7 linked regions of the Homo sapiens genome follow. The protein of the gene in region 6 purifies or fractionates together with the protein of the main gene of each other region. This does not show direct contact. Each region holds a gene or a part of one and is shown on either strand. Other genes may lie near its edges.

What was found.
Region 1: the proteins of MYL10 (region 6) and CRAT purify together in Homo sapiens (affinity purification with mass spectrometry; one large-scale study listed by BioGRID and IntAct). This does not show direct contact.
Region 2: the proteins of MYL10 (region 6) and DCAF6 purify together in Homo sapiens (affinity purification with mass spectrometry; one large-scale study listed by BioGRID and IntAct). This does not show direct contact.
Region 3: the proteins of MYL10 (region 6) and CPS1 purify together in Homo sapiens (affinity purification with mass spectrometry; one large-scale study listed by BioGRID and IntAct). This does not show direct contact.
Region 4: the proteins of MYL10 (region 6) and TMLHE purify together in Homo sapiens (affinity purification with mass spectrometry; one large-scale study listed by BioGRID and IntAct). This does not show direct contact.
Region 5: the proteins of MYL10 (region 6) and CYP24A1 purify together in Homo sapiens (affinity purification with mass spectrometry; one large-scale study listed by BioGRID and IntAct). This does not show direct contact.
Region 7: the proteins of MYL10 (region 6) and EARS2 purify together in Homo sapiens (affinity purification with mass spectrometry; one large-scale study listed by BioGRID and IntAct). This does not show direct contact.

The regions. Positions count from the first base shown.
Region 1 is NC_000009.12:129,094,294-129,097,543, reverse strand, and holds the end of CRAT (carnitine O-acetyltransferase), read left to right. Parts: intron 1-231; coding exon 232-294; intron 295-1,408; coding exon 1,409-1,546; intron 1,547-1,931; coding exon 1,932-2,147; 3' UTR 2,148-2,750; downstream 2,751-3,250. UniProt on the Homo sapiens protein: Catalyzes the reversible transfer of acyl groups from carnitine to coenzyme A (CoA) and regulates the acyl-CoA/CoA ratio. Also plays a crucial role in the transport of fatty acids for beta-oxidation.
Region 2 is NC_000001.11:168,002,683-168,006,182, forward strand, and holds part of DCAF6 (DDB1- and CUL4-associated factor 6), read left to right. Parts: intron 1-1,187; coding exon 1,188-1,307; intron 1,308-1,850; coding exon 1,851-2,111; intron 2,112-3,500. UniProt on the Homo sapiens protein: Ligand-dependent coactivator of nuclear receptors. Enhance transcriptional activity of the nuclear receptors NR3C1 and AR. May function as a substrate receptor for CUL4-DDB1 E3 ubiquitin-protein ligase complex.
Region 3 is NC_000002.12:210,559,599-210,563,098, forward strand, and holds part of CPS1 (carbamoyl-phosphate synthase [ammonia], mitochondrial isoform b precursor), read left to right. Parts: intron 1-3,500. UniProt on the Homo sapiens protein: Involved in the urea cycle of ureotelic animals where the enzyme plays an important role in removing excess ammonia from the cell.
Region 4 is NC_000023.11:155,490,953-155,494,452, forward strand, and holds part of TMLHE (trimethyllysine dioxygenase, mitochondrial isoform 1 precursor), read right to left. Parts: intron 3,159-3,500; exon of another isoform or gene 1,928-3,158; intron 1,749-1,927; coding exon of another isoform or gene 1,613-1,748; exon of another isoform or gene 1,583-1,612; intron 1,544-1,582; coding exon 1,405-1,543; intron 715-1,404; coding exon 583-714; 3' UTR 1-582. UniProt on the Homo sapiens protein: Converts trimethyllysine (TML) into hydroxytrimethyllysine (HTML).
Region 5 is NC_000020.11:54,171,187-54,175,188, reverse strand, and holds the start of CYP24A1 (1,25-dihydroxyvitamin D(3) 24-hydroxylase, mitochondrial isoform 1 precursor), read left to right. Parts: upstream 1-1,202; 5' UTR 1,203-1,609; coding exon 1,610-1,867; intron 1,868-2,089; coding exon 2,090-2,280; intron 2,281-3,518; coding exon 3,519-3,612; intron 3,613-4,002.
Region 6 is NC_000007.14:101,612,830-101,616,063, reverse strand, and holds the end of MYL10 (myosin regulatory light chain 10), read left to right. Parts: intron 1-2,353; coding exon 2,354-2,402; intron 2,403-2,490; coding exon 2,491-2,589; 3' UTR 2,590-2,734; downstream 2,735-3,234.
Region 7 is NC_000016.10:23,536,851-23,540,350, reverse strand, and holds part of EARS2 (nondiscriminating glutamyl-tRNA synthetase EARS2, mitochondrial), read left to right. Parts: intron 1-2,175; exon of another isoform or gene 2,176-2,268; intron 2,269-2,796; exon of another isoform or gene 2,797-2,967; intron 2,968-3,118; exon of another isoform or gene 3,119-3,347; intron 3,348-3,500. UniProt on the Homo sapiens protein: Non-discriminating glutamyl-tRNA synthetase that catalyzes aminoacylation of both mitochondrial tRNA(Glu) and tRNA(Gln) and participates in RNA aminoacylation for mitochondrial protein translation.

The sequences.
Region 1 (3,250 bases), on a different chromosome or scaffold from region 6:
AGAAACGGGATTTCACCATGTTGGCCAGGCTGGTCTCAAACTCCTGACCTCAAGGGATCCACCTGCCTCGGCCTCCCAAAGTGCTGGGATTACAGGCGTGAGCCACCGCTCCCAGCCCCAATATTTCCTCTTAAAGAGCTCAGAATCTAGTGCTGGGTGGGGGTGGGCTACTGAGGTGGGCCAGAAGAGAAGGGACAGTGCTTCAGCTCCCTCTGACCCTCACCACTCTAGGAGCACCAGAAGGTGGAGCTGCTGCGGAAGGCCGTGCAGGCCCACCGAGGCTACACCGACCGGGTAAGTGAGCCCGCTTGTGCCTACTCACTTGTCCCTTAGTGTCAGCCATCTGTCTGTCCCTCTGACTGTCCGTCCCTGCAGCCAATGGCTGCCAACCCTTTGCTAGGACCACATCTCCCCCAACCTGGGAGCACCTGGAGCCAGGCTGAATAGCCCCCAACTTTTTCTTTTTTTTTTTTTTTGAGATGGAGTCTTGCTCTGTCGCCCAGGCTGGAGTGCAGTGGTGTGATTTAGGCTCACTGCAACCTCCGCCTCCCAGGTTCAAGCAATTCTCCTGCCTCAGCCTCCCAAGTAGCTGGGATTACAGGCACCCACCACCACACCTGGCTAATTTTTCCATTTTTAGTAGAAACAGGGTTTCACCATGTTGACAGGCTGGTCTCAAACTCCTGACCTCAGGTGATCCACCCACCTCAGGCTCCCAAAGTGCTGGGATTATAGGCGTGAGCCACCGTGCCCGGCCAAATATCCCCATTTTAAAGTTGGAGAAACCCAGCCTGGGCCCAGTAACTGCCTTGGTTCCAGGTTCCAGGGCTGGCCTGGGCCCTAGATGTTGGGTCACACTCTCTCCCTGATGCTAGGTATCTCTCCCTGACGCTAGGTATACATGGTCCAGCAGACAGCCAGTTTCCTGCCCTCCAGCAGCTTGGGCTGCAGTCAGGGAGGTGGCTGTCTGGATGCGTGTCCTGGCTCTGTCTCTGAGCACCTGTGTGTCCAGGCTCTGACCGTGCTACATGCACACGTCCATTTAGAGCTCACCGCCACCCTGCGAGGGGAGTGTAGGACTCACCCCTCTTTACAGATGAAGACACTACAGTTCCAGAACCTAAGCAACCTGCCAAGGCCCTGCAGCCAGGATGGGGCTAGGTCACCCAGCTCCAGGGCCCTGCCCTACAACCCTGCACTTTCCTGCCTCCCTGGGCAAATCCCCGCCCCTCCCTGAGCCTTGGTTTCCCCATCTGTGAAACGAAGGCTCTCTCTGGCCAGAATACTCTGGTCTTGTGGTTTTGAGTGGCCAGTGCCTGCGAAGGGTGGCGCTGCCACAGGCTGAAGAGGGCAGGGATACCCCGGGGGTCCACAGCCCCTGCTCCTGACAGCTCTCCCACCCCAACAGGCCATCCGCGGGGAGGCCTTTGATCGACACCTGCTGGGCCTGAAGCTGCAGGCCATCGAGGACCTGGTGAGCATGCCCGACATCTTCATGGACACCTCCTACGCCATCGCCATGCACTTCCACCTCTCCACCAGCCAGGTGGGCCACTGCCCCAGGTGCCCCGGGGGCTGGAGGCAGAGAACCCACTGGTAGTTTGATGTGGCCTACACAGGCCCCACTGACCCATTGCCAACACAGCTGAGTTCCAGAGGAGGAGCTGGGGGCAGGGGCCTCTCTGCAGCCCAGGCAGGCTGAGAAGGGGTCAGTGCTCCTCATGGGAGAATCAGCTTCGCTGACTCACTGGTCAGGTATAAAGGAACATTTGATTCGTGCCAGCCTGTAGTGGTTGCTGGGATATAGCAGGGGACAGACCATGATCCCTGCCCACAAGGGGCCTGCAGTCTTGGCGGAAGCACAGGCAGCCTGGGAAGTGCTGGGGGCGTCAAGGTAGGGGAGCTGAGAGCTTTCATCCTGCCGTCCCCAGGTCCCTGCCAAGACAGACTGTGTCATGTTCTTCGGGCCCGTGGTCCCCGACGGCTACGGTGTCTGCTATAACCCCATGGAGGCCCACATCAACTTCTCCCTGTCGGCCTACAACAGCTGCGCGGAGACCAACGCCGCCCGCCTGGCGCATTACCTGGAGAAGGCGCTCCTGGACATGCGTGCCCTGCTGCAGAGCCACCCCCGGGCCAAGCTCTGAGCCCCTAGGACTCAGGCCTGCCAATGCCACAGCCAAGCCCACCCTGGGATGGGCCACCCACCAGGGCTCAGCTCCTTGGTTCCCTCTTCCTTGGTTCCCTCTTCCCTGGTCCCCCCAAATCTACTGAGCCACGGACCGCATCCTCCAGGGGGCCTGCAGGCCCCAGCCAAGTGCCTTCCGTGGGTCATCCCAGCACCTGCCAGGGCCCGACCTGGGGCTGAGTGCAGAGGCTGAGCAGGACGTTAGGCCCGGGCCCCTGGCACGTCCTCCACCGGTGCCTCCTCTGGGGAAGGGAACCAGCCCTCCAGAGCAGGAGACTGGCAAGAGCTCTTTGTCTCACCAGCTCAGCCCCGGCCACTCCCTGCCAACTCCATGACCAGGCCACCATCTGTACCCTGCTTCCCAAACTCCCAGGACCTGGAGACAGGATTGTCTGGGGCCGAGGGGCCAGGGTGTGAGGTTTCACCTCCGTTGCGGCTGTGCTCCTGTGGATAACATTGCTAGCGAGCCGCCTCTGGTTCCACTCAGCTTGGTTCCTGCCCCCGCCCTGCTGTATGATATTAATGTGGAAGGTCATCAATAAAGGGGAATTGTGTTGGTGAAGAGGTGTTTCAGCTGAGAGGCAGGCAGGGTGGGGGCAGGCACCTGGCCTTGCCCTCTTCAGCTTTCCCTGGGCCTCGGAGCTGGTGTCCAAGCAGCTGGTGGGCCTGAGGGCTTTGGCCCAGGAGCCAAGGTCCAGCTGTGACCTTGGGGCACTGGGCCCAGAACCATACCAGAGCCAGGGCTGCGTCCTTCACCAGCAGCTTCCCACCTACCTCTGGCTTGGGCCTTCCCAAGTCCCATGGGTTGTGGGTAGGGGCAACTCTCCCAGGGGACTGTGGGGCCCAGCAGGCCCAGGTCTGGTGGGCTGATGAATGTTGCTAATACCCAGGGGCCCAGGGTGTCATTCTACTTCCCCCAACTGAGCCCAGCAAAAGTAGGAGTACAGCAGCAGGCTCAGCTTGCCCCAGGCCCAGCCGCTGCCAGGACAGACACCTTCGGGGGTGGGCAGGTGCGATCAGAGCAGAACCACATACCTGCCCATAGCCCCGTGTCCATGGCTG
Region 2 (3,500 bases), on a different chromosome or scaffold from region 6:
ACATATAGGTATACTTATGCAAATATATCTTAGGATAAATTCTTAGAAGTGGAATGGCGCAGTCACTGGATAAGTACCTTTTAATTTTGGTAGTTGTTATCAGATTAGTCTCCAAAAAAGATGTGCTAATTTACATTCCCACTGAAAGTATAAGAATGCCCATTACCCCATAGTACGTTGGGTATTGTCAGACTTTGCAGTTTTTGCCTTTCTATTAGATATTAAGAGAAATGAAAACTCAGCCCAAGGGTTTTATATTAGCACATAAAATGTTTTCTATCAAGTGCCTTTGATAAGCATAAGAATCAACCCTGGGAGCTTTAAGATAGCACACTTGAAAATAGAATTAATCTATGAATTATAATTCTATATTATTATGTTTTATTAAATTGGTCTGTAACCAAAATCTTACTATAATGACTTCTGAAACATCTCTTGTGATCAAAAGCATATTCCCCAATATATGAGCTACATTATATAAAGGCAATAAAGTGTAAAAGAAACTCTGATTTCACAGAAAATGTAAGAAGAACCGATTTTCATTTTAAATTATAAGACTATAGAATAGAGTTGTCACATTTTGAATTTGACATTACACTTTTAATTTGAAAATACCCTTGGAAAAACTTGTTTACTTGCAGGAGGAAAAGGAGTGAGGGAAGAGACAAAATACTTTCTGGTTCCAGTTAATTTCAAATATCTGAAATTTGCTTACAGTAAATGATGTTGAAAATAAATTGACTTTAAGGAAACTTCATGCAAAAGCATAAGGCTATTTTGTGTCTGTACTTGATTATAATGCTTTAGGGAGAGGGAAAACCTTTCTTTTAATCTATTAAACTTAGAATTCATGAGCCTTTCTTGGCTGGGTACTCTTAGAACTAAAAATTTAGGTTGAGGTAGGAAGTGGGAGGTTTAGTGGTACCTAAGAATAGGCAAAGATGAAGGAGAGGTGAGCCCTGTTCTCAAGAAACCTTACCATACACATGGAAAGTCACTGATATAAACAATTACTATAAAATGTGATGAGAGCTCTAATAGATTTATATACATTCATACAATTTATTTAGGAAATTTGATTTTTAAAAATATGCTTTCATTTTAAAGCCCTTCAAATCTAGGTTTTTGTATTAATGAAAGATTCTGACTTATTACTAAACTCACTGATAAGACCTATATTGTAATAGGAGAGCAGAGTCCCAATGTGTCATTGATGCAGAGAATGTCTGATATGTTATCAAGATGGTTTGAAGAAGCAAGTGAGGTTGCACAAAGCAATAGAGGACGAGGAAGATCTCGACCCAGAGGTAATTTTTAATGTTAATTAAAGTCATCAGAAAGCTGGCAAAAACTACTTATTGAAGCCAGTTTTTATTTCTATCATGTAAATTATACCATGTTTTACATCTGTAATAATCACAAGGTTCTTATTGTGTGGTGTGAAGTAGTAGAGAATAAAAGATATTGGATATAATTTGTCCCTTCTGGTGCCATTGGACCTAGTGCGTATCTTTTGCTTTTCTCAAAGTAAAGTAGAAGAATCTGAGGTTTCCTATTTTAAGCCTTTTTTTAATGCACTCTGAGAATGGAAATATATAAAATTCTGTGTATAAACAAGTTTTATGTAATAGGAAAGATTGATTGCTTTAACAAGAATATGTTGTAGATAAGTTTTTATCCCTCTTGACTGGCCTATTTTGTCAAATGGGCCAAATCACCAGTAGTTATTATCACTGAAATTATATATTTGTGTGTGTAAATATAAATGTGTTTTCTGAGCATATCTGTTTAGAGTTGTTGGTTTTAGAAAATATTTAAAATTTGAATTTGCCTTAACATGTGTTTTGAAGGTGGAACAAGTCAATCAGATATTTCAACTCTTCCTACGGTCCCATCAAGTCCTGATTTGGAAGTGAGTGAAACTGCAATGGAAGTAGATACTCCAGCTGAACAATTTCTTCAGCCTTCTACATCCTCTACAATGTCAGCTCAGGCTCATTCGACATCATCTCCCACAGAAAGCCCTCATTCTACTCCTTTGCTATCTTCTCCAGACAGTGAACAAAGGCAGTCTGTTGAGGCATCTGGACACCACACACATCATCAGTCTGGTGAGGATAAGTATGCTGTGGTTCATCTAATGATTTTTGATAGTGAAAATTTCTTTACTGGCTATTTTGAAAGATACTAAATCACATCAACTTCTTGTTGGAATAAATGATCAAAATGACATGTAATATATGGTTATGTAACTTAAACACAAAAATTAATTATGTCTTACTTGCATGAATTTTAACAAATAGCAGGAATCTTCAATTTATATAAAACAATTGTTTTAAAAGTACAAGTACCAAAAGATAGTGTTTTGACATAGTTTAATGTGCCTGACTTAAATATTATTTTATAGATTATTAGAGACCAAAATATCTTTCTAGATTTATTTGGTTTTATGTCTATATTAAAGTGATTATGAAAATATCAGTATTAGTTTCACTTTGCTTATATTCTTGATTATTTCCCTCAAATAATGCAGTACTTTTAATATACTCTCTATGGTGGATTTGATATGGTCTTTTGTCAACAACATATAATTTACCAAAAAATTTGTTTCTCTAGTATTTACATGAAAAAGAATTATTTTACCAAATGCTTATCTTCTTGATACTTGATGCTAGTGAAAATAACCTCTACGTTCTGTTAAAATGCTATTTTTTTCTCAGTATTATAAGTCTTTATGGTCAACTTTTTTCCCCTAACTATGGAATGTGCTAGTATTTATAATAGTAATTTTCAGCAGATGTATCTACAGTTTACTCGGTACTTTAAACTATATACATGTAATTATAAAAACCAATAAGATATTTATTCATAGTTTTCTTTGGTTCTTCTAAGGAAGAATTTTACTCAATATAGAGCCAGAATTATTAGCAACTAGAAATATAGCTGGCAGGCCTAAGCTGAAACCTATAAAAAAATTTCTAACAGCTTAGCTGCCAAGCTGTCACTTTATTCTTACATCTCTGGAAACTGATGCCAGATTACCAAATATGGGATGTTTTAATTTAAGCACTCTTTTATCAGTATATACCACTTTTAGTAATTCATTTTCAGTTTCTATGGGAATAAAAGCCAGAGTCAGTTACATAACTGTTAACACTGTATACATTTTATCCATAATAATAAGCTAAAGCTGAGCTACAGAATCAAGGTTTTCACACTCAGTTGACATAGCATTTTAATTTATGGAAAAATAAAATATTTTGGAAGATTTGGGAATTAAAAGCAGAAGTAGTTAAAAGTTTGTTTTTCAAAGCAGGTAAAATTGGGAAAAGCAAGAATTTTTAAAGTGATATTCTTGAACATATTGATCAATTATAAGTTTTTAGGAAAACTTAGCAAGAAGACTCTAGCTTACATTCAGCTTCCACTGAATCTCAACTAATTCTAGTTGTTTCTTAAATATATTTATGAGTAAAGTATTTGGAACTTTATTTTTTAAA
Region 3 (3,500 bases), on a different chromosome or scaffold from region 6:
TAGATACCATAATCTTTTTCCATTAGTACTGAAAATGTTCAGCACTCATTATTACATTCAGCAGGCTGTAACAGTGTAATAGTGGGATATACTCTGGATTGGGCACAAAAAGATCTGGAATCTAACCCCTGTTATGCATTTCCTAATGCCCTGTTCTTGGACAAGTCACATATTCTCTGAACCTAAGTTTTGTCATCTGTATAGTGCAAATGATGACTGATTTACTTGACAAATTATGTGATTGTCACACATGAACAATTCTCAAAAATCTTTAAAGTTTTAAATTTAAACCATTAAACTGAACATTTTAAAGCAAAAACTGGATATTTAAAAAAAAATTCCATTCTATACATTTTAGTAGAAGGACTTAGTAGAGGGTTAGATCAAAGAGTCCTTATGTTTTTTATGGACTACAAGTTGTTGCAATGACAAGGTATTTGATAAGAATTCTCAAATATTTATAATAATGATTTGTTCACCTTTGCCTTAATATTAAACATCTCTAAGAAGATATTTCTTATAATAAATCAGACTCAAGGAAAATGAAGCAAATAATCTTTTTTTTTCAGTATGGCAAATTTAATTCCAAAAGGCAGAATAGACACCATAATAACCTATTTCATTCATTCATTCATTTATTCTTTAATAAACACGGAACCTCTACCATGGGAGTATACAGGAAGAATGATAAATAGAAATAAGTGGATCATAAGAGTATAGTCTCTGATTTCAAGAAACTTACAGACTTCAGAATTCTGAGTTCACAAGTCTGGGAAAGTCATCAAAGCTAAATAGTTTTATTTTTACTTGCAAATGAATTTGGAAATCAAAAGTATTAAATTGTAAAGCTTAAGTTCCCTATGAATAGAAAAGTGTTCAATAAGTACTCCTTCTAACATTAATCCACTCATTTTTTAACAATGGTGACCTGTGTTATAATTAAGCTAGGAACCTAACAATCCAAGTGTCCTCTCTGATACTTCAGCTACGAATGAGCACTGGTAGTCATTATTTCTTTTGAAAGGCATTCATTTTTAAGATTTTATATTCTGATTTTCACATAGAAGTATCTATTTAGTTCCGTCTTGAGGAGCTATTGTCATTTGATTAGAAATTGGCAACTATAAAAACTCCTACAATTAGAATAATTTACTTACATTGTAGTAGCTTTAAAGATAGTCACAGGAAATATAACTCATTATCATATTGGAGCCTCTGTACACGTTAGATGTAAGAGTGGGGATGGGGTTATCACACACTTTTAAGAATAACTATTTTATTGGACTTTTACTACATATAGACACATTTTAGGACGGATTTCATCTATGGCAAACTACATTTTTGAAATATTAATTGTGTTCAGTCCCAAATGAGCTGTTGCAGAATTAGTTTGCCTGATGGACAACTTTACATACTTTTGGCATGCAATACTTCTCTAATTGGGAGATGGCCTTTCTTTTGAACATTTTAATTTTTTCCATTTTTTATATCCCCAATTTTCTAAAATATAGATTCATTTATTAGTCACCAACAACGCCTTGACATTATGAGCTTCTTGACATAAAACTCTTGAAAAAACTATAGTTTAAATGTCCTAGACTAGGTTAAGTGAGTGAGGTACCTGAGATGCAAAATTTAAGGAGGCTGTCACTGTTAGTGTCATGGTGTATCTCTTTGAGAGTTAGGCCCTAAGCACATCACTCAGTACCCTAGTCCCAGCTTTGGGTCAGAAGCTAAGCATTCTGGCTGTAGAACTGCCCAAGGGACTAGTACTAATCTTGACCTGTGCTTTCCTCTCCCTCATTCCAATTTGCTCATGTCTAGCCAGACTTTCTGACGATCTAGAGGTGACATTAGGTCTTATTGCTATGGAAATGGAGACTATTCCTCTGCCTTTACATCTGTATTAGACTTTCTTCATATTTCCAACCTGTTCCAAAAATTGAGGGGTGCTGTAGAAAGTTTTCAGTATCTCTTAGGCAATGGGCATGCTAGAATTCACTTCAAGCCTTCAGGAGGAGTTTGGTATGCTACGCTGACTGCCCTTGATGGGATTTGTATTTCCTGGGGCATTTGCAATGACGGAGGCCCGAAAAAAGCTGCGCGGGCCAAGGTCAAAGTTTGTGTTAGGCTCCTTAGCCCTAGGGATCTTTAGCTTCCATTTGATTTTCTTCATGTGATCTAAATGAGTTGAACTTATAAAAATATTTTCAAGGCTACTCTGTTTGCTTTTTATTTTTTTCAACTTGTTAAATGCTATACATTGATCTTTTAAATTTCATAGGGAGGTAACTGACTAATTTGAAGTTCTCATAAATGAATCAATAGGGTTGCTACATTATGAAAGAATTTTACTAAGTTTCTTCTATAATGCAGACTGAAATATAAGACCATTTTAATTTATCACCACCATACAGTAAAAATTAGCTTATGATATGTAGGTTCCTCCAGGATTCTGAACAACTTGCCACATAGCAGATGCTCAGTAAGGCATATTAATAAACCTACACTTTATGAACATACTTTGTAATGAAATTTTTATAAATGCTGTATTTTATTTACAATGAGAAACCTTATTAGAATAAAAATGATTCATAAATCTTAATCTTTTGTTTATAAATGTTCAAACATAAAAGTACTTAAGTAAATTAACCTTTTGATTTTGTCCCCTTAACATTGGCTTATGTTTAACCAAAGACCGATGACTTAATATTAACTTGGAATGTTGTAAGATTATTAACTGAGAATGTGGTAAGGCCTAATTGATTACTGCTGTTACAGTGCTTCAGAATTTTGAAGTGTTAGGCCTTGTAACTGCAGAGAAGTCTCATGAAATATTTCAAAGACAAATTGTGCTGAAATTCTAAATTTCAAAAATCCATATCTTAATAGTGTAATTCCAAGAATAAAAGAATAAGATTTCATTTACTTGATTTTAACTTTTTACCATATTATCTACACAATAATTACCTGAAATAAATTCTGGCTTTAGGCTTTCTACTTTTCAGTGCTTAGTTCAGATTTATTTTTTAAGAGGATGAGTACTGAGGCGAACTAATAGCTTAGAAACATCAGGTAAGCCAGAAAGCACGTATGTTATATAGCCTTAGGCCTTGGTGAAAATGGAAAAAAAACATGTGGGGCCTCTACTTTTTCTGAAGTGCAAATAGTTTACGTAGATAAATGATTCAACAGCAATACCATAATCCCAGAGTAAATTATTTTCATTTTTACTACTAGCTCAAGGGAATTACTGACTTTTAAATGGTGTTTTTTTTTTTTTTTCAAACCTTTTATGGAATCTATTGCTGAATTAGCTTAAGGCTTTACAGGCAGAACATTTTAGTGGTGGAGTCTCATATCTAGGAGAAGAAACATTTCTGTTCCTCCCATTTCACAGATATGTAAGTGCTGAAGTTAAAACAAGGACACATGGATGCCTGTTTTTGTACGTAAAACAAAATATACATTAGCAAATTTGGTTAGAATTTTAATTAGGC
Region 4 (3,500 bases), on a different chromosome or scaffold from region 6:
TCTCTCTCATAGCTGAGGGATGTGTGCTTCTGTGTTCTTCTTGAGCTTTAAATATTTCTCAGTCTTAATACCTAAAATAATTAGTATCAATAGATAGAACCCACACCCAAGAACTCCTTGGGGCCTTCAATAACTTTTAAGAGTGTTAAGGTGTCCTAAGACCAAACATTTTGCAAATTGTTGCTTTATCAGGATTTTTGTTATTTCTAGAATGCATTTCTTTCTAACTGATCTACTTGGGAAAAAAATCGTTACCTCATGGCAATTATTGCTTTCCTATCAATATGGAGATTATATTTCTGAAGGAGACTGACCAAAATTATATTAAAAGGTTTAAATCAAACAAGTGGATCCATGTTATAACATGAGGAAGAGAGCTGCCCCACTAGATGTCTGACATTAGATAACTCAGAGTCCCGCCTCTCCAACAAGTCTCCCTTACTAGAGAAACGGACAGATTCTGTTTTGTGGGATGGGATAAGGAGACAATCTGAAGTAGAGTTTGACACAATATTATTCTGCCCATATGAAATTCTGGTAGCCAGGGTGCCAGGTGTATTCATAATCCAGATGCTGTCAATTTTAAGCCTGAAGCCCCAAGAGGCGAGCAGTGTTTAATACATCATCTCTTGTTAAATAGCAGCCACACAGTTGGCGGTAGCCAGTGAAGCATTCCCTGCCATGTAGGACACGCCAGTTGTCTATAAATAGGACCTGTGAATGGGCCAAAAAAAAAAAAAAAAGAGAGAGAAAACACTGTCAGAAGAAGGACAGACCAAAGGAACCCTAAGTCAGAAGAGATCATTTAAAAGATAACCTTTAGGTTGTTTTCTGGTTGCATTAAATGAGATATTTTTCTTTTGAAATTAAACAAACTTTTGGAAACTAAGATGTGTATAGCCCTGTAGTAGGCTAAATGGAAGTTACAGAGGCAACAGTAGGTAATGGGCCCTGCACTGGAGGAGCTTCTGTTTCTCAAGTAATTGTTCTCTTATCAAAGTAAATCAGATAATTGGTTTGTTTCTTTTTCTTTTTCTTTAATTCTTATTCTACCCTTTCTCAAAGGGTTAAATTATCTCATGACATTTTATGCTAAGCTGAAGGTATTTTTCATCCAGAGGAAATACCAAAAATAAAAACTATGGAATCATGAAGCTGGAAGGACCCTTGGGGGTCATCTAGTTAAACCCCTTCATCATACAAATAGAGTCACTGATGCCTTAGAGATGGGATGAGGCTTGCTTCCAGAGCATTCAGTGAGTGGGCGGCAGGACCATAAACAAAACCAAGGACTCTTTTCTCTTTTTCCTTTGCAACATCGTGACTCACATATTAAGTAAGTACCCGTTCTTCACTGCTTCAGTATTACAAGCTTGCTTGACATCTTTAGAGATTAGGACCCACCCTGCCAGGCTTTAGTTTGACCCAAAACTCATTCTCAGGTCTCCTCAACTCTATCGTTAGAGTCCGGTGTGCTGTATACCAGCGATGGACGACATCATAAGGAACGGTATTGATGACAGCCCGGTCATAGTTGTTGTACCTAACATGGAATCATGAGAAGAAAGATCTCAAACACATGTTAAAGACATCTTTTGTTTATTGAACAATTTTATATAAGGCTTCCCCTATGTTCAATACTTGTCCCAGAGACGAAGTGACGATAAGTCAATATTCTCTCAGGAATATCACATTGGAGTGAGGAGTTCCACTGCCTGTTGACCGTGTTTTGTTTTTCTTTGAATAATCTAAGGATACGGGATAGAAGTTAAGTTCCAACTGTTTCTCTCATCTTATGATATGATATTTTAAGTCTTTACTGGCCAAAGGTCATGGAAGCACTGGGGAAAGCGCTGAGCTTTCTCCTCACCAAGCTGAGGTGGGGTGGACAAGAGAGGTTGTACTAACAAAGCTTTCCTTTTAACAGGATGACTTACAACTTAAGTGTCTCCCTTTGTGGGAGGAATCCCAGCTATAGCCTAGTGGACCATTCACCCAGGGATCTTCAATCATTCGTTCAACCCTAACATTTATATGCGCACCAGCTACATGCTAGGCAGTGCGTCAGGCATTAAAGATACAAGGACGAATACAGCAGACACGACCTCAGTCTTTGGACAGAGTTTACCTTCTATTGAGGAAGATAGATGATAAACAAGTAATAAATACATAAACAAAGTAATTTCAGCTAGCTATAAATGCTATGAAAAAATAATAGTGTTATATAATAAAGAGCGACTGGGAAATCTATTTCACATGGAGTGTTAAGTGAAGGACTTTTTGAAGAAGCGACATTTGAGCTGTTACCTGTATGATACGAGACCAACAATGTAACAAGCTGAGGGGAGAGCATTCCAGGCAAAGGGAAAAGCAAAAACACAGCCTTGGAGTGGAATGGAGTTTTATTCTGTTTGCCGACCAGTAAGAAGGTCACGTGGCTGGAGCTGAGTAAGCAAGGGGAATAATGGTGGGAGAAATTACGTGGAGGAGGTAGTCAGGGGCTAGATCATGTATATATTGCCATGCAGGCCATGGTAAGGACTTTGGATTTTATTCTGAGTACCATGGGAAGCCACTGAAAAACCTTGCCTAAGATAATGGGTTTCTGTTTTGCCTAAGGCAAATTAACTTTTTACTGAAGTATACTATACATTACGGAAAAAGTACACAAATCGTAAGCTTGATGAATTTTCATGATGTAATCGCATCCATATCACTAGCACCCAGGTCAATAAACAGATCATTACCAGAACCCCAGAACCCTCCCTTATGCCCCTTTCCAGTAACGCCCATCCCCCAACCCACGGGTAACTACCATCCTGACTTCTATCACCAAAGATTAGTTTTGCCTGTTTATATAAAACTTTATATAATTGCAATCACAATATGTATTCATTTTGTGTCTGGCTTCTTTCATTTAATATTATGTTTAGGAGTTTCATCATTGCTTAGCAATAGTTTATTGGTGCTATATGGAAGTTGAGTGCGTGATCACACCACAGTTTATCCATTCTACTGTTGATGGACATATGAGTAATTTCCGGTTTGGAACTACTACAAACAGTGCTGTTATGAACATTCTATTACATGTCTTTTGGTGAACAAATATATTCACTCCTATTTGAAATAAACTTAAGAATGGAACTTATGGATCATAAGGTATGTGTATGCTCAGATTTACTAGATACTGCCAAAGATATTCTTTCCAAAGATAAATTAACATCCAATGGTGCCATTTTTGGATATCTCAGGCAATATTCCTTAGTGTTAGATAGTACATGGCACAATCAGAGCCAACATTCTTAGTTTTGTTGCATATAAAATGAGCATAATAACATCTGCTTAGCTGATCTCACAGGGCTACTGCAAGAATCAAATGCAAAAATAGGCCGGGCGCGATGGCTCACGCCTGTAATCCCAGCACTTTGGGAGGCCAAAGCGGTCAGATCACCTGAGGCCAGGAGTTCAAGACCAGCCTGGCCAACATGGCGAAACCCCAT
Region 5 (4,002 bases), on a different chromosome or scaffold from region 6:
GGATTTGCCAACACTTGGGGCAAAAATGACTGAGACACGTAATTGAAAAGCAGGGCGAGGAAACAGAATGTCCCTCCCCTCCTCCCTGGCTGGTGGTAGTTTTGTATTGGATCAGGTTGAAAGGATTCGAGCCACTTTAAAACAATCAACAAAAATCTCCAACTTCCGTTCCTGAATTAGCAAAGCGAGTTCTACTCTTGCCAGCCGCGGTAACTCTAGAAATTGTGTATGTTTGTCACTGGACCTGCCTAGGACGCACCTTGGGGGAGAGGGGGAGTACTGGGGGCGGTGGTTTCAAGCTCTGTGTGCCCCTCCTTTGCACAAGGTAGTCGGTGTAGAAGAACAGAGGCGGGCAGTGGACATAGGGGAGGTGGCCCAGCCTGAATTCAAGCATCGTTGGTGCAAGCCACGCTCTCAAGGCGCATTTCCTAACTTCCTAAAGAAGTAACAACAGCAACTAACTTTTATTGACTGTTGACTATAGACAAGGCTTCGTTGTTGCCGCTTTACGTGCATTAATTCATTTAATCTGCAAAACAACCAAACATGAAACAGCAGGAAGGAAATTCTACAAACTCCCCTTCTTGCTCAAGTTAAGAAAGTCTCCTCTTCTGGTGCATTTCAGTAAGACTCAAATCCTCCCCACCCTGGGAGGCGCAGAAAGCCAAACTTCCTCCAAAAAAAAAAAGGCAAAAAAAAAAAAAAAATCACTTCAGTCCAGGCTGGGGGTATCTGGCTCCCCGGGAGGCGCCCGGGCTCCCCGGGGCCCTGGCAGACGCCGGCAGCTTTTCTGGGCCCGCACTCGGGGACCTCGCCCGCCCGGCATCGCGATTGTGCAAGCGCCGGGCGGCAACCACGGCCGCCGCTGCCGGCTCCTGCCCGCCGGGGGAGGGCGGGGAGGCGCGTTCGAAGCACACCCGGTGAACTCCGGGCTTCGCATGACTTCCTGGGGGTTATCTCCGGGGTGGAGTCTGCCGCCCCCACCCCACCTCCCGCGCCCAGCGAACATAGCCCCGGTCACCCCAGGCCCGGACGCCCTCGCTCACCTCGCTGACTCCATCCTCCTTCCACCCCCCCTCCCCTGGGTCCCGCGTCCCTCGGAGTCTGGCCAGCCGGGGGCCACTCCGCCCTCCTCTGCGTGCTCATTGGCCACCCAGGGCATGCTCTGTCTCCATAAATGCATGGTCCCTGGGCATAGGAACATGGAGAGGGACAGGAGGAAACGCAGCGCCAGCAGCATCTCATCTACCCTCCTTGACACCTCCCCGTGGCTCCAGCCAGACCCTAGAGGTCAGCCTTGCGGACCAACAGGAGGACTCCCAGCTTTCCCTTTTCAAGAGGTCCCCAGACACCGGCCACCCTCTTCCAGCCCCTGCGGCCAGTGCAAGGAGGCACCAATGCTCTGAGGCTGTCGCGTGGTGCAGCGTCGAGCATCCTCGCCGAGGTCCTTTCTGCTGCCTGTCCCGCCTCACCCCGCTCCATCACACCAGCTGGCCCTCTTTGCTTCCTTTTCCCAGAATCGTTAAGCCCCGACTCCCACTAGCACCTCGTACCAACCTCGCCCCACCCCATCCTCCTGCCTTCCCGCGCTCCGGTGTCCCCCGCTGCCATGAGCTCCCCCATCAGCAAGAGCCGCTCGCTTGCCGCCTTCCTGCAGCAGCTGCGCAGTCCGAGGCAGCCCCCGAGACTGGTGACATCTACGGCGTACACGTCCCCTCAGCCGCGAGAGGTGCCAGTCTGCCCGCTGACAGCTGGTGGCGAGACTCAGAACGCGGCCGCCCTGCCGGGCCCCACCAGCTGGCCACTGCTGGGCAGCCTGCTGCAGATTCTCTGGAAAGGGGGTCTCAAGAAACAGCACGACACCCTGGTAAACCCCTTTTCGCGCCCCTGACTCTCTCCTCCCTCTTCCGCCCTCCCAGTGGCGCTCCAAACCCTCCCCGACATGCGCGCCTCGGGCGCATGGTGCGCTTCGGCGTCTGGGCAGGGAGGGTCCCCGGTCCCCTAGGAGGAAGGAGGCGGGAGGAGGGAAAGCGCTTCGGGCACGGCGGAGGATGCGCGCTGACACCGCGCTGTGCCCGGCCGGCTGCAGGTGGAGTACCACAAGAAGTATGGCAAGATTTTCCGCATGAAGTTGGGTTCCTTTGAGTCGGTGCACCTGGGCTCGCCATGCCTGCTGGAAGCGCTGTACCGCACCGAGAGCGCGTACCCGCAGCGGCTGGAGATCAAACCGTGGAAGGCCTATCGCGACTACCGCAAAGAAGGCTACGGGCTGCTGATCCTGTGAGTCCAATCCGAGGGACCTGGGCATGCGGCCAGACCTGATGAGCCTGACGGCGCCTGGAAATTGTGAAGAGGCGGAGTTAGAGTTCCCTGGGGTTGGAAGCTTCTTACGTAGGGCGGATACCAAAGCCCCTCTCCCGTGCCATCGCAACCCTGAGCTCTTGTACAGATTAGAGTCGGTCCACGGAAAAGCCGTGCTGTGCACCCAGCACCTGCGTTCTCTCTGGCAACAGGGCAGGGCCACACCCTCCCATCAAAGAAACGCCAAAACAGGGTTGTACCAACTGTGGTGTTCAGACTCTTGGGCAGGATGAGGTTCTGAAGTCAGCGTACCAGGCAAACATCTTATACAAACAAAATTATCCCTTAAAACTCCCTGAAACACCTTGTAAGCTCAAAAGCGAGGAGTTAGCCTCTTTGGCTTTTTACAGTGACATTTTCTGCAGAGGATTGGGGGACATGCCTTATTTCTACTTGTAAAGGTGGAATAAGGAGGGATATCAAAGTTGTGTTTTAGGTCGACAAATGCTACTATGGGATGTGATTCTTCTGCTTTTTAGTTGTTAGCATTTAACAAGTTAGCACCTTTATTTACCCCCAAACTGTAATGCCTAATCGTTATATTTTCCAGGATATAATGACTGGAATTAAAAACCCTATTAATTCACGGTGCTTCACAGGCTGTATGGTCTGCTATGGGGCAGGTGCCTACAAGTGCACGATCGCAAAAGGCTTTTTATTACTCCAGTGACTCTCTGACTGTATGTTATTATTTGGAGGCGATGGCAAAATTCTAAATCTGAGATATTTTGTAAATATGAAGCCCACACCAATGAGTTGAAAGAAGACAAGATTCTTCCCTCAAACAGATCTGAGTTGCTGGTGATGGGGTGTTCACATGCCCCCTTTTACCGCTAGGAATTGTCCCCAGGCCTCCCAGCCCCACTCCCTGCAAGGACACCTCAAAATCCCTGAACCCAAATTATCTGGACTTCAACTTTTTGGTGCAATCTTTGACTAGGAGGAAAGGTGCTTTTTCATCCTATTGTCAAACTATTGTCAAAAGATGATCACTATTTTATCCCAAATATTCTGATGCTAATATTCTCTGGCTATTTCTTGGCATGATTCTCAGTGTTTGTTTGATTTTATGGTTCCTGAAGTTGCAGCTGGAGTATTTCTGCATCTCCTTCTTTTCTTTTCAGTGTGCTCTAAATGTATTCCTGCTTCTCTCACAGGGAAGGGGAAGACTGGCAGCGGGTCCGGAGTGCCTTTCAAAAGAAACTAATGAAACCAGGGGAAGTGATGAAGCTGGACAACAAAATCAATGAGGTCTGCAGGCTGGGGCCAGCTTTCCTGGGGCTCGTGGGGACATAGGGATATTGGTGGAGCTTCAAGTCACAGCTACAAAGAACAAAGGAAAAAAGAATGCAATTCGGGTGATTCAAAGTGGGGGTCTTCTCTTTCTCTCCATTCCTTCCTACAGCCTCCTCCCCACCAAACCCTTATTTCTCCCTCCTCCACCCTCTTTTAAAGTCATATCACAATGAGGGAGCAATGGAGAGTGTGGACTTTGGTATTCTACAGCCCTGGATTTGAACCCCAGCTTTCCACTCCCTGGCTATGAGACCTGGCTATATACCACTTACCTTCCCTAAGCCTCAGTTTCCCCATCTACAAAATGGGAGTAACAGTTCCCACCCCACGGGTTTGCTGTGAGAA
Region 6 (3,234 bases):
TGGGCCTTGGTGTCCCCTTCTCTATGTGTGCGTGGAAGTAGAAATGGATAAGAAATGGTGGGTCAGGCTGGGCGCGGTGGCTCACGCCTGTAATCTCAGCACTTTGGGAAGCCGAGGTGGGCAGATCACTTGAGACCAGGAGTTTGAGACCACCCTGGCCAACACAGCAAAACCCCATCTCTACTGAAAATAATAAAAAAAATTAGCCAGGCATGGTGGTGCATGCCTGTAGTCCCAGCTACTCTGGTGGCTGAGGCAGGAGAATCGCTCGAACCCAGGAAGTGGAGGTTGCAGTGAGCCGAGATCACGCCATTGCACTCCAGACTGGGCGACAGAGTGAGACTGTCTCAAAAAAAAAAAAAAAAAGAAGAAGTGGTGGGTCACTCCAGGAGAGCTTCCTAGTGGGGTGGGTGTGGGGGCAAAGGCAGATCTTGAAGAATGACTGCAGGTTGCCCAGGCTAGGGGGGGAACAGCATTCTAGATGAGGGAACAGAGAGCTTGGAGGGCCAGGGCTTGGCATGTGCATGTTTGTTCAGAGTTGGCTGCAGCTGGAGGGTGCGGGTGGAGGTGGTGTAGGGGAGACTGAGCACAGAGCGGCAGGCGGGGCCTCTGGGGGAGCGCTCACACCCTAGCCCCTGGACCCTGCGTCTGCCCTGGGAGCATGGGAGAACCTGAGGAGGAGTTAGGCAAGGACACCATGGAGGCCAGCCTGGAGAAGGAGAGGAGAGGGTTGCAGCTCCCAGGAGGGTCATGGCCGTCGAGATGGAGTCGGGCGGACAGATAAGCAAAGAGCCAGGGGCCAGTGCCCATAGGATCCAGGGTCTGGGGAGAGGACTGAGCCAGATCGTAGCCAGCACCGCCTCGGGCAAGAGGGCAGTAAGGATTGGGGAAAGTGACCAGCTCACTTGGAATGCATGAAGGGGAAGTGGCTGCAGGCAGCTGTCTGGCAGGCACCGGGGCTGCCATCATGAGGGTAGGGGTGCCCCACCCAGTGACAGCAAGGGAACAGAGAGCCAAGAATTGCAGGCAGGAGTGGGCGGGGGAGTGGCAGCCTTCCCAGGACCCAAGATTCAGGGCTGACCTCTGAGCTGTGCCGACGCAGTCCCTTCAGAACCTTGCTGGACCTGAGGGTGGCCTGGGGCAGGTGAGATTCCTCCCCAGGCCCAGGCTTCCTGATCAATTACTGTAATGCTGCCAGCCTTCATTTTGAGGCTAGTTTTGCTGGTTTTGAGATTCTCGCATCTCAAAGGGAGAGGGCAGACGCAGCAGGGGTGGAGGTGGAGAGGGTCTGTCCCGTCTCACACATTCTCAACTCCAAGACCATGAGTCACATACTCCCCTGGGATGGGGAGGGGATGCTGAGGGTTGCTGCAGTCCACAGTCCTCCCCTTCACCCCTCCCTCGGGGTCTGTGGCTCCTACCTCCATCCTGGGGACCTGGGGAGGCATCAGAGTCACCCCCGGAGTAACCCCAAGCCCTCCCTCTACTGTCAACCACTTTCTCTCTCACCAGTGCAAGGACAAGGCTGGGAAGACCCTTTGGGGACCTAATTTGGGAACTGAAGGCACTGCCTTGGGACATGGGACCTGGATCTGTGGCTGCAGGCCAGGCAGGCCAGACAGGCCACGGTGGAGGCTCTGGTTGAAACAGAGTCTGTGAAAAGTCCCCGGCTTGGAGAGCTGGAAACTGTGACTGTCCCACAGAAACATAAATAATGGAAAATGTGCATTGGTCCTTAGCGAGGCCTGCCGCAGCCGGTGCCAGAGGACACTCTGGGTGGACGAGGCCCCACTCAGCCGTCTGATCCCATCTTTGCCCACTGAGCTCCCTTAAGAACCCTGCAGGACCCTCCAAGCTTGAGGGGGCAGGCCCTTGCAGGCCCAGGAGGACACGGACCTGGGCAGGCCTTCCTGTACCCTTGGCAGAGCACAGGCATCTTGTCTCTAAAACACTATGCAGGTGTCAGTGAACGTCACAAGCTGGAGGAAAGAGTGTGTCCAGAATCAGGCAAAAGAGGCTCTGCGGTGGGGGACCTGAGGTGTCTCCCCTCAATGATCCAGAGCTTGATTATAGTGCATGATGGGAAATCAGAGTAGCCCTCATGGTGGGGTCCCCAGGTCATTGCTTTTGGTCCCTACCTGATGCTGGGAGGAAAGCCCACTTCATGGAGGAGAAAACCGAGGTTCAGAAGCTACTTGGCCATCGGGGGGGCTGGCAGGGTCAGCCCCAGGTTGATGTCCTCCTGGTCCAGGATGTCCCCCTGCCCCCACTTGCCCCTCATCACCCCTGGGATCTGCATGTTCAAGCTGGGTATCCCGTTCCCTGAACATGACTGTGTCTCTCCCTTGAACAGCATCAAAGAAAAACTTATGACCCAGGCAGACCGCTTCAGTGAGGAGGAGGTAAACTGGGATTCTGGTGGGTCACGGCGGATTCTCTGCTCTGGCCCCCACTTGGCCTGGTGCAGGCTGACTCTCTGCTCCTTCTCAGGTCAAGCAGATGTTTGCAGCATTTCCCCCAGATGTGTGCGGCAACCTGGACTACAGAAACCTGTGCTACGTCATCACTCACGGTGAAGAGAAGGATTAGGGGATCACAAGTCTCCCCGACATTCAGGGGCAGCAAACACTGTTGTGGGGTGTGACAGGGAGCTCTTGCAGCCAGAGGCTGCAGGAAAAAGGCTTCCCTTGTCCTACGGTTGGGGACAAAGCAAGAATAAATAATGCTAATGAGGTCTGAGTTTGTGCGGTAAATGCTCCAGCGAGGGAGAAAACGAAACATTCCTATCTTGTTGGTTTTTCCAAACCTTTTTTGTTCCTCTGGCTCTGCTCAAATGTTCCCGAGGAGCTGGTGTTTAGAGCTAATTGACAGTTTTAACGATTCCCTGCTAAGCCACGGGATATTGCCTTCATTTATGGAGCTTTTATTAAGCACCTAGTGCATGCCAGAGGCTGTGCTGGTCCCAGGGACTCTCAGAGGAGCCAGGACTGTCCCTGGGCAGGATATGGTGCTGACTGCAGTGAGGAAGGCAGAGGAGGGGGCAAAAAGTGGGGTGGGGACATCGGTGGGAGGAGAATGGAGAAGCACGGGAGAAAACTGGCTGCAAAGAGCTGGCTAGAGGTGAAGACGTCAGAAGGGAAGAGGTGGCTTCAAGGGATGTTTAGGGGGTAGGCAAGGATTTCTTAAATGGGACACACATAACTGTGATCATAAAAGTGGATAAGTTGGACTTCA
Region 7 (3,500 bases), on a different chromosome or scaffold from region 6:
AATGTATTTGTCTCTTGACAGAATATTTTTTTTCTCATCTCATTCTGTGACCCAGGCTGGAGTGCAGTAGCATGATCACAGCTCATTGCAGCCTTGAATCTCCTGGGTTCAAGCAATCCTACATCCTCAGCCTCTCAAGTAGCTGTGACCACAGCCATGTACCACCACACACAGAGTGTTATGTTTTGTTTTGTTTTGAGATGGGGTCTCACTCTGTCACCCAGATTGGAGTGCAGTGGTGTGATATTGGCTCAAGGCAACTTCTGCCTCCTGGGCTCAAGCAGTCCTCTCATCTCAGCCTCCCAAACAGCTGGAACCACAGGTGTGTGCCGCCATGCCCGGCAAATTTTTTTTGTATTTTTTGGTAGAGACGGGGTTTCTCCGTGTTGCCTAGGCTGGTCTCAAACTCCTGAGCATAGGAGATCCACCCACCTCAGCCTCCCAAAGTGCTGGGATTATAGGTGTGAGCCATCATGCCCGGCTGGCACACAGCTAGTTTTTAAATTTTTGTAGAGATGGAATTCCCCTATTTTGCCCAGGCTGGTATGAAACTCAAGCGATCTTCCCACCTCAGCTTCCCAAAGTGCTGGGATTATAGGCATGAGCCACCATGCCTGGCCAACAGATTTTTTTTTTTTGTTAAATTATAGTCATGCCCTGTTGTGGAATCCTTGCAGCCATTTATTTATTTATTTATTTTAAGCTTTCAGGATTTGTATTAAATCCTAGTCTAATTTAACGGTATCTGATGTTACACACATCATCTCATGGTGAACGTGTTTAATAAGCGAAAGCAAATCAGACAGCTTATCTAAGTCGTTATTTTTTGTGGACTAAACAGTAAGGTAACAACTACCCAGAACCCTATGGGTCATGATGGACACTTGCTCAGTTTTCATACAAGCTGTGTTGGTTATCAAAGTATATCTGCTAATATTTAATAAAGTGAAATGTCATTGGGGTGGAAAAGTCAAGCCTAGACATTTGGTTGGAAAAGAACAGATCAAGTATGGATTTCACAAACCAAAAGTTTATAAACTCAATGCAATACAAGTCCTTTCTATTGTAAAAGCTTAGTTGAAACTAAAAGATCTGTAAAAACTATTACTTTGGGCCTTAAACAGTACTAGCTCTTATGAGCAAAAAAAGGACACAACTGCAGCCTGGGCAACGTGGTGAAACCCTATCTATATTAAAGTACAAAAATTAGCTGGGCTTGGTGGTGTGTGCCCATAATCTCAGCTACTTAGGAGGCTGAGGCAGGAGAATCAGCTGAACTAGGGAGATGGAGGTTGCAGTGAGCTGAGATTGTGCCACTGCACTCCAGCCTGGGAGACAGAATGAGACCCTGTCTCAAAAAAAAAAAAAAAAAAAAAAGGAGGGGGGCCATAACTGTTGAGAATGTATTACTTGGTTTTATTTTACATTAGGTGGTAGGTACAAAGCAATCCTTCTTAATAAAGCTGACAGTTAGCTTCCCTTAGGACTTTTTTTTCCAGACAGGGTCTTGCTGTGTCACCCAGGCTGGAGCGATGCAATCATGACTCACCACAGCCTTGACTTCCTGGGCTCAAGCAATCCTGCTTCAGTCTCCCAAGTGGGTGGAACTACACACATGTACCCACCATGCCCGGCTAATTCTTTTTTTTTCTTAAATTTCTAGTAGAGACAAGGTCTCGTTACCCAGGTTGGTTTTGAACTCCTGGGCTCAAGCAGTTCTCCTGCCTTGTCCTCCCGAAATGCTGGGATTACAGGAGTGAGCCACCGCACTTGGACAGAACATATTCAATAATGCACATTTAAAACAAGTATTCATCTTACAAGTTGTTCTGTAATCCAAACATATGACAGCTTGGAGAACAACATTTAGAAAACAGAAGCCAATGTAAAAAGACAGATTAATACAACTAGAAGCCAGGCACGGTGGCTCACGCCTGTAATCCCAGCACTTTGGGAGGCTGAGGTAGGCAGATCACCTGAGGTCAGGAATTCGAGACCAGCTTGGCCAACGTGGTGAAACCCCATCTCTGCTGAAATTAGCTGGGCATGGTGGCGTGCACCTGTAATCCCAGCTACTTGGGAGCCTGGGAGGCAGAGGCTACAGTGAGCCAAGATCACGCCGCTGCACTCCAGCCTGGGTGACAGAGCGAGACTCCATCTCAAAACAAAAAACAAAAAAACCCAACTAGGATAGTGTAGGTTTTGTATGGCTCAGACTTTACAGTTTTCTTACTGCATCATCAATGTATCGATTAGAATATCTGTTCCAGCTAGGTGCGGTGGCTCATGCCTGTAATCCCAGCACTTTGGGAGGCCAAGGTGGGCAGATTGCTAGAGCCCAGCCTTCGCAACATGGTGAGCCCCCATTTCTACTAAAAAAAATACAAAAATTAGCCAGGCATGGTGGTGCACGCCTGTAGTCCCAGCTACTTGGGAGGCTGAGGTGGGAGAATCACTTTACCCTTGGGAATGTCTAGGCTGCAGTGAGCTGTGATCACTCTACTGTACTCCAGCCTGGGTGACAGAGTGAGACCCTGACTCAAAAAAAAAAAAAAAGAAAGAAAAAGAAAAGAAAAGAAAGAAACCCTGTCTCTACTAAAAATACAAAAAATTAGCTGGGTATAGTCGTGCATACCTGTAGTCCTAGCTGCTCGGGAGGCTGAGATGAGAGAATCACATGAGCCCAGGAAGTCAAGACTGCAGTGAGCCATGATTGCACCACTGCATTCCAGCCTGATCAACGAGAGTGAGACCTTGTCCCCTGTCTCAGTAAATGAATGAATGAATGAATGTTTCTTCAGCTGGCCCCATTGCTGTGGATTTAAAGAAATACCTTTTCTTCCTGGTTTTATTTAACCTTTGAGATCCATCCAATAATCTCTAATACCATCAATTAGCACTTCCCCTTTAACATCCCAAACACTAAGGTACCTCATTTTCCCAATCTGAAACATGTTATCAGCTGAGTACAGTGGCCTGTAATCTAATCACAGCACTTTGGGAGGCTGAGGAGGGTGGATCACTTGAGACTAGGAGTTCGAGACCAGCCTGGGCAACATGGTGAAACCCCATCTCTATATGAAATTTAAAAAAGAAAATAAACATGTTATTATGTTTACTGCCGCTGCTCTGTTTGGAAGATGACAGAGCTCCCAAAGTTTTGCCAGTCTTTTGTTCCTTTACAAGTTTTTCTGGAGCAACTTACTTTTTCTTCTTTAACTTTTTGTCAAACTCACTGTCAGAATTCCTGCCAGAAGAGCTTGAAGAAACAAGTTCCTTTGATTCAGACATAATGCTGCCCTGCTTCTGCAGCTGAACACCCTCCTGTTCACTCATGTGCAACTGACTCATTTGTAAAAATTTCTTTTTTGGCCGGGCACGGTGGCTCACACCTGTAATCCCAGCACTATGGGAGGCCGAGGCGGGTAGATCACGAGATCAGGAGTTCGAGACCAGCCTGACCAACGTGGTGAAACCCCATTTCTACTAAAAATATAAAA